2 linked regions of the Homo sapiens genome follow. The protein of the gene in region 1 purifies or fractionates together with the protein of each later gene. This does not show direct contact. Each region holds a gene or a part of one and is shown on either strand. Other genes may lie near its edges. The genes, in order: ZNF543 and JPH1.

Region 1 (4,614 bases):
AGTGAAGCACCATGGTGTGAGGGGTCCCCGGCAATGCCTCCCACCTTTTTGAATCTCCAGTGTCTATTATTCCACTATTTCCATATGTATACATCATTTAGCTACCACTTATAAGTGATAACATGCAGTATTTGACTTTGTTTCTGAATTATTTCACTTAAGAGAATGGCCCCCCAGTTCCAGCCATATTGCTGCAAAAGCCATGATTTTTTTTAATGACTGAGTAGTATTCCATGGAGTGTATATATATATACACATATATACATATACATACATATATATACATATATATACATATACATACATATATACATATATACATATACATACATATATATACATATATATACATATACATACATATATATACATATATATACATATACATACATATATATACATATACATACATATATATACATATATATACATATACATACATATATACACATATATATACATATACATACATATATACATATATATACATATACATACATATATACATATATATACATATACATACATATATACATATACATACATATATATACATATATACATATACATACATATATATACATATATATATCGCATTTTCTTTATCCAATCATCTGTCGATGGACACTTAGGTTGATTCTATGACTTTGCTACTGTGAATAGTGCTACAGTAAGCATGTAAGTACAGGCATCTTTTTGATATAGTGGTTTATTTTCCTTTAAGTAAATACCCAATAGTGGAATTGCCAGATCAAATGGCAGTTCTATTTTCAGTTCTTTGATAAATCTCCATACTGTTTTCCATAGAGGTTGTACTAATTTACATTCCCACCAATAGCATATAAGCGTTCCCTTTTCCTTGCATCCATACCAACATCTGTTGGTTTTTTACTTTTTAATAATAGCCACTCTGACCAGTATAAGATGGCATCTCAGTGTGTTTATGTGTGTGTGTTTTCTCTCATCATATCTCATTATAACCTCAAATTCCTGGGCTCAAGCAATCCTCTTGCTTCAGCCTCCCAGTGTCTAGGACTACAGGTGTACACCATCATGCCTTGCTCTTTTTTTTTTTTTTGGTAGATATAACATCTTACTATATTGCCCAGGGTGGTCTCAAACTCCTGACCTCAGCAATTATTTTGTGTTGGCATCCCAAAGCACTGAGATTACATATATGAGCTACCTCCCTAAAATAAGGGAAGTGAGCCAGAAGCTCTGGGCCCAGCCCATGATCTCAATCGGGGCGAATATCCCCGCCTCCTGACCTCAATTTTCCTAAGCTAGAAAGGACCTTTCGACCCTCCGACTTGTGCCCATAGTAAAGCGGCGGCCCTAAGACGACGCGGGGGTCCTTGTGCGCACTTAAATGGAGTCGGCTGCGCTTGGTGAGTTCCCACACCCGGTAGATGTGAGGGAAAAACTGCCTTACTCAGAAGGCACCACCCCTTGCGTCGGCCGCGGACTCTAGGCCAATGACGGGCCAGGACACGGGCGATTTCTGCGGGCCAGGGCGGCGGAGGTGGGACTTCCGCTTCGTCGCGTGACGTCATCTCCGTGAGCAGGATTGGCCCTGGAACAGTGTGGGGCCTGGACCGCTGGGTAGGCGCGTCCAGCGGCCTGAGCAGGGGAGGGTAATGAGGCTGTTACGCGCCTTCTCCGCATCTTGGCGGGAGCCTGACGCCCCGCTTCTTCCCTAACGGGGTGTTCCACCGGCGCCTGCCGAGGCCTAGGCCTCCGCAGCCGCCCTCCGTCTCCTCAGCCCCGACGCTGCGCCCGCTTTGTGCGCATTTTTCTCTGGGGAAACTGAGGCTCCGAGTGCGAAAGTCAGCCGAGGTCGCCCCGCCCAGGACAGAGAAGGGCTGGGGGTCGGCTGAGCCGCGGCATTCCCGGGCCCCGCTAGGGCTGCAGGGTCTCAGGATGGCAGCCTCGGCGCAGGTGAGTGGACGAGGTTTTGGCCTTGCTGCTGCTCTGCTACTTCTGGAGGCCTCGTGGGCAGGCAGAAGCCAAGACAGCCACAGGATGTTTCTTTGTCGCCGTCGTTTATTTAAGAGAAGTGGCCGTAGCTTGTCATTTCCTTTATCCGCAGTCCTGCAATAGTGTTGGCCTCCGACAGGTGCTCAGTCCTTGGTAGAAGGATGAATGATGCTTCCTTCATGGATCTCATCACACTTCCCTTAAATCCAACCTCCTCTGTTGCCTGCCAGCCCCTACCCCATCCACCTGGCCAACCACCCCTGACCTTGTCTCTCCATTTTTCCCTTGTCCTTTGCTCTTCAGAGCCACCAACCTGACCGTGCAGTCTTCTTCCTTTTTCCAGGCTTTCTCTTTGCACTTCCCTTTGCCTTGAACACTGCCCCTATAACTTCGCAGGGCCTCCCTCTCATATCTTTCTGGCCTCTGTCCAGATGTCACCTATTTGGAGGTGGCTTTCTTGGCAATTCCGGCTAAAGTGGCGCCTTACGCACTTGCCCATTTTTGGCAATGTGTGGCATTTTTGTATAGAGAATCTGACGATATTAAAGAAGCTTGCCGTTTGAGTTGGTCTAGGATGTTATGTGAACAAAGAGAAACGAAATAATTGCAAAGAGTGACAGCTGATCATAAAGAGTCCTTGCTGTGGGCTGATTGGCAGGCATTATTTAACCCTCAGCTCCTTTAATCCTGAACTCCTTAGAATTAGGTTCTCTTGTCCTCACTGTTTTACACAAGAGCAGCTGGAGGCTCACATAGGTTCAATTACCTGCCTTACATCACTGTAGCTCTTAAGTATCAGAAACTAACAACTGGTGTGTCTACCATCACAGCCTGTGTTTTTACCCTCTTCTTTGCCCGCAATGGTTAGGGAGGCCTGGGGGTGACACCTAAAGTAAACTTTGCAAGTTGAGCAGGCTTCCTTCTAGCAGGTGGTCTTGGACATGAGGAGTCATGGCATTTCATGCTGGTGGAACTGTGTGGACTAAAAAAAAATGGTTTATTGGTTGTTTAAGGAGTCCGCAGGGGACCCGTGTGGCTTCCACAGTGGTTTCCTGAGTGGTTTTCTCCTATACCAGCTGACACATGTCTTGGGACACAAGATTTTGTGGTCTTTTGCTAGATGTGCCTTCCTCCTTAGCCAGGACAGACATAGCCAGTCAGGGGCCCATGTTCTCATGGCTACAACCTGCTGTGTCCTCTGTGACTCTTGTTCCTTGCTCCTGAAGTATCCTGACCTCAGGGATACTTGTTGGTAGGACTCAAACAGGAAAAGGTAGTGATAGCTCGTTGTGGATTCTTCCTATGAGAATGGGCATCTGTGAGGCCCAGAAGTGTCCGAGGCAGCAGATGCAGGTCCAGGCCCTGCCACTTTTGAGGCAGGTGCCACCACCTCAGGTGACTCTTCTGTGAGGTAGGTGATTATGACTATGCTGCTCTGCCCAGGTCCATGAAAATATTTCAAGTGGCTAACCCCAGCACAGTGGCATGTGTCTGTATATCCAGCTTGGGAGGCTAAGGCAGGAGGATCATGAGTTCAAGCCCAACCTGGGCAAAATATTGAGACCCTGTCTCAAAAAAAAAAAAAAAAATCCTGAAAATATTTTCAGGGTGGCTCAAATGGATGTATTTCAATGTTTCCCATCCTCATTAACTGTGCATTAACTTTGCTAATGAAGGAGTGTCGGGTTGCATGATTAGAACATAGACCATAGGGCCCTGGGTTCAAATTCTGTCTCTCCTGATAAGAGATGTGACTTTGGGTAGACTAGTGGAGGTCCTGGACCTCAAGTCTCTGAGTGTGACATGGAGATGATGATGGTGAACTCAGGAGCTGTGGCCCTTTGCCCCAGTGTTTCCTTTACAGCTTTTCTTCAGATCTTTTGACTATTCTTGGTGAAGTGGAAAACCCTGTTGTGTTGACCTGGACATCAGGGCTCAGATAAATGAAATGAGATTTCCAAGGTCACATAGCAGGCTTGTGTTGATTTCAGGAATTTGGTTTTAAACCTCAGGAGTCTGACTCCTGAGCTGGGGACTTTTAGTCACTTTACCATGGCATGTAAAGCCATTAGCATGAGGCAGGCTCACAGGGAGGATCGGTAAGACTCAGGTGCTGTTCTTGTTGTTGTTGCTGGTGTTGTTTTTGTTATTATTCTTTCCCATTCCTCTGATGTCTCAGAGCACTTACTGTCTTGCCTCTCAGTCCCCTTAGGATTGTCCTAACCTTATTTCTGTGTGAAGTGGCTTTCTGCATAGGAGGCTTCTCTCTCTTCACTGCTGTAATTTTTTTTTTTTTTTTTGAGACGAGTCTCGCTCTGTCACCCAGGCTGGAGTACAGTGGCACGATCTCGGCTCACTGCAAGCTCCGCCTCCCGGGTTCACGCCATTCTCCTGCCTCAGCCTCCCGAGTAGCTGGGAATACAGGCGCCCGCCACCGCGCCCGGCTAATTTTTTTGTATTTTTAGCAGAGACGGGGTTTCACCATGTTAGCCAGGATGGTCTCGATCTCCTGACCTCGTGATCTGCCCTTCATGGCCCCCCAAAGTGCTGGGATTACAGGCGTGAGCCACCGCGCCTGACCGACACTGCTGTAATTTATCCAAGGCAATGTCCACATTCCCCTCATGCCTGGCACAG
Region 2 (3,821 bases), on another chromosome or scaffold:
CGCTTTTCAGTTACTTTTTACTGCATTTGATGGGAGAAAGTATTTGTGATAATGGTATTTGGAGATTCTTGAGGGTCTGAAGATTTGTAAAATGTCACAGTCTTTTGATAAATGAAATGCTTTTGGGGCACGTATTCCCCTTTGGTGTATGCATTTTTTGCCTGTGACCAGCAATAGCATCAGGGCATCCAGTTTGAGTGGTTTCAGCTTATCTCTCCAGACTGCCTAACCTGAATCCCACCCCCCAACGCAAGAACAATCGCAATTGACTGATTACAGGGGTCGTGTGTCACTCTGGAACTGAGCCTGGGATGTGATCACATGAATTCACTAACATGAGCCAGAGACAAGTCCAGATTATTCCTGGGCAAAATCTAGACATGCCAGTGGCCTTAGCTGTACAGGCTGGTGTTAACAGCAAACTCAGAGTGGGTTTCTGTTCTTCCTTCTTGTCATCGGTTCCAAAAGCTCTTGAGCAGACTTCAGGATTCAGGTTTGAATGTGGTCTTGACTCATCTGGCCAGCTATACAGTAGCACTGAGCCACAGAGCTGGGCTGGATAGAAAGGTCCTCCTTTGCTGTGTGGTCTTATAGGAAACAGCAAGTAAAAAAGTAAAGGGTTAAGTACTAGCAGGCTTCACTGATGCTGTGCTTCCAAAATATATTTGCAGAAAGGTTAAGCTGTATTTGTCTATTCTCTAGTTTAGCATATTATAAAAAGTGGTAGATATACTACTGCTGTTTTATTTGACTGTATGGTGGTGTGTCGTGATTGAATCCGAATAAGTTACTTGTACTTGAGTTTTGTAAATTTATCATTAAAGGGCTAATAGATAGTATTATAAAGCAGCATAGCTATACTCTTATGGCTTCATTAATTATGACACCTAGACATAATTAGGCTCTGGCTAAGAATAGCGGACAAAATGGAAAATCATTTGGGGGAAAAAAGTTTAGATTCTGAGAAACTGAAAGAACATTAGCGGAGGGCATCTGTTGATTATCAGGCACAACACACAGGACTAAGGCATTACCCATCGTACCTCAGCAATGGCACCCATGAGGGGTTATTCCAACAGCCAGTTGTTTAAGAATATGTCCCTCCCCTCTTGATGTTATTTCCATTTCATATTTCTTGATACCCCATACACAAATAATCTAAAGCATCCTCCATGGTTTAGAAATAGCAGTTTTGATGATTCGAAGTTGATCCACTCATTTTTAATGACTTTATTTTTTAGAGCAGTTTTAAGTTATCAGAAAAATTGAACAGGAACTGCAAAGTTCCCATACACCTCCTCTCCTCATGCACACACACAATATCCCCTATTATTAACATCTTGCATTTTGAGGTGCGTTTGGTGTAATTGATGAACCGGTATTAATATATTAGTATTAAAGTCCATAGTTTACATCAGGCTTCATTCACTGTTTGTGTTGTACAGTCTATAGATTTTGACAAATATGTAATGTCCCCCACTACAGTATCATGCAGAATAATTAAACTCCCCCAGATATGCCCTCCTTTCCACCAATTCATTCTTCCCTACTACACCCCGAACTCTTAGCAACTCTGAATCTTTTTACTGTCTCTATGGTTTTGTCATTCCATTCAGTTTTAAGAACTACCCAGCTTTTCCTAAGGAAGCATCATTCATTCCTTTATTCATAAAGTGGTCCCTCAATAAATAGTATGTGCCAATGTAGCGTTCTGCACTTTGGGATTATGACAGAGGACCAAAAATTAAAAATTCCAATCTTCACAAAGCTTACATTCTAATACATCAAGCCTTCAGGCTTGCTTAGATCCTAAATAGAAGTGAAAGGAGTCCCGTGAGAGCACAGGACAAGAGGAGGTTATTGAAGAGAGTAATGTGAAAAGGGGGCCTCCTACCAGTAGACCCCCTTGTCTCAGGCCAGGCCCGGTGCCTCCGTGTTTTGGTCCCAGGAGCTCCGCCTGCCAGCCTCCTCCAGCTGCTGCCCGTGTGTTCTCCCTGAAGAGCATCCAAAGCCCATGCCTTTTCCCAACTCCTCCTCTCTCCTGCTGTCTCCAACATAAGTGTAAGCACCTTTTTCAGACTTCCATTAAGTTTTCACTGCTAGTTATTTATAGCCCTGCCTAGTGCTAATAAAATATAATAGAAAATTTACAAAGTCATAAGAAATAGGTACCCATAAACATCTAAAGACTAACGGGACAAGGCCTTTCCCTTTGCAGAGCAGATAAACCAGAGTTTTTTTCTTCCCTCCAACCCTCTCTGGGGCCAGTAGACATCATTCCCTGGTGCAGCCATAAGAAGCCCTATTCTTTTTCCTGCCACTTTCCGCATAACCCTAGTCCTCCAGAAAGATGAGAGGTTTCCATGAGTGAGGACAGGCCAGGGAGGCGATGGAAGACTGAAAGATCCATTTCATCCTTGCCAGTTCTGCCTCGCTGTCTCCTTTTTGGTTCATACAAGAAACATGCCTAAAAGTCAGCTAAATGGGCTCCTCAGGAACCCTTCTGAGCATGTTCTTAGAGCGGGCCTTGTGGTTTGCTCCTGCTGGTGAGCACCAATAGTGCACATCTCCCCACTGCACATCCAACGGCATTATGCTGGTAGCCTGAAATTGGCCACGGTGAGAACATTTACACATGGATATGAATAAACACTACCAATCCCCATTTCACTAATTTTTTTCTTCAAAGAGCTACTTCACCAGCATGCCAGTGGGCAGATCTTTCTTAGTCAAATTCTTACATTGATTGTACCGTAGAAATGAATTTGATAAACACTATTAATTTATATGTTCTAATTCTACTTTCCATAATTTTAGGTGGGGGGGAGGAATGCCAACCAAAGTCAACAGGAGATTTGATCCAGTAAGTTTTGAAAACCACACTTAGCATCAAGCTACACAGACCTTGCTCTTACTTTTCATTTCCCTTGAGAGAAGGGCTAAGGCAATTCATGGGTAGTTTAGTTTCATCTATGTCATCTTCATTGAAATTTCACGGCAATAGGACTCTAAAATTTTTGCTCTTGTGGGTGTCGGGCCATAATCATAATTAACATTTCTTTTCCCAGATTACAATTTGCTTGTCCCTGTGTAAGTAACAAGGGGTCACCTATGCTGACTCGTCCTTTTGTGCCCCGTGTAGGACTGCACATGCCAGAGCGAAGGCCGATGCCGCCGACCAGGCCGCGCTGGCCGCTCGCCAGGAGTGCGACATCGCGAGAGCTGTGGCCAGGGAGCTGTCACCTGATTTCTACCAACCAGGTAAAACAGTGCTCCTTTGATGGGTGAGGCAGGAGCACTGGCTTTGGCTTGCTTTTATTTCCTTTTCCTTTCAACATAAAGATGTGTGCTTCCTGAATCCCAGCAGTACTATTATACAAAACAAGCAAGGGCGCCTGCGGTTGAGGATCCTTCATCTGAAGTGCTTGGGACCAGAAGTGTTTCAGATTTCAGATTTGTTGATATTTTTCTGTATTTGCATGTACACAGTGAGATCTCTTGAGCTGGGAACCCAAGTTGAAACACGAAATTCATTTATGTTTCATAGATACCTTATACACATAGCCTGGAGGTAATTTTATAGTATATTTTTAATAATTTTGCACATGGAACAAAGTTTTGACTGCATTTTGACTGTGACCATCGGTCATGTGGAATTTTCCACTTGTAGCATCGTGTCGGTGCCCACAATGTTTTGGATTCTGGAGCATTTCAGATTTTTGGATTAGGAATGTTCAACTTGTAGTAACAAATATCACCCGAGGTCTGAGTGTTAGCCCTGGAGATGGGTTATTCCCCAGAGTCTCACCCTTCCTCCCCTC

Evidence for each region.
Region 2: the proteins of ZNF543 (region 1) and JPH1 purify together in Homo sapiens (affinity purification with mass spectrometry; one large-scale study listed by BioGRID and IntAct). This does not show direct contact.

The regions. Positions count from the first base shown.
Region 1 is NC_000019.10:57,318,934-57,323,547, forward strand, and holds the start of ZNF543 (zinc finger protein 543), read left to right. Parts: upstream 1-1,538; 5' UTR 1,539-1,920; coding exon 1,921-1,938; intron 1,939-4,614. UniProt on the Homo sapiens protein: May be involved in transcriptional regulation.
Region 2 is NC_000008.11:74,258,825-74,262,645, reverse strand, and holds part of JPH1 (junctophilin-1), read left to right. Parts: intron 1-3,142; coding exon 3,143-3,261; intron 3,262-3,821. UniProt on the Homo sapiens protein: Junctophilins contribute to the formation of junctional membrane complexes (JMCs) which link the plasma membrane with the endoplasmic or sarcoplasmic reticulum in excitable cells.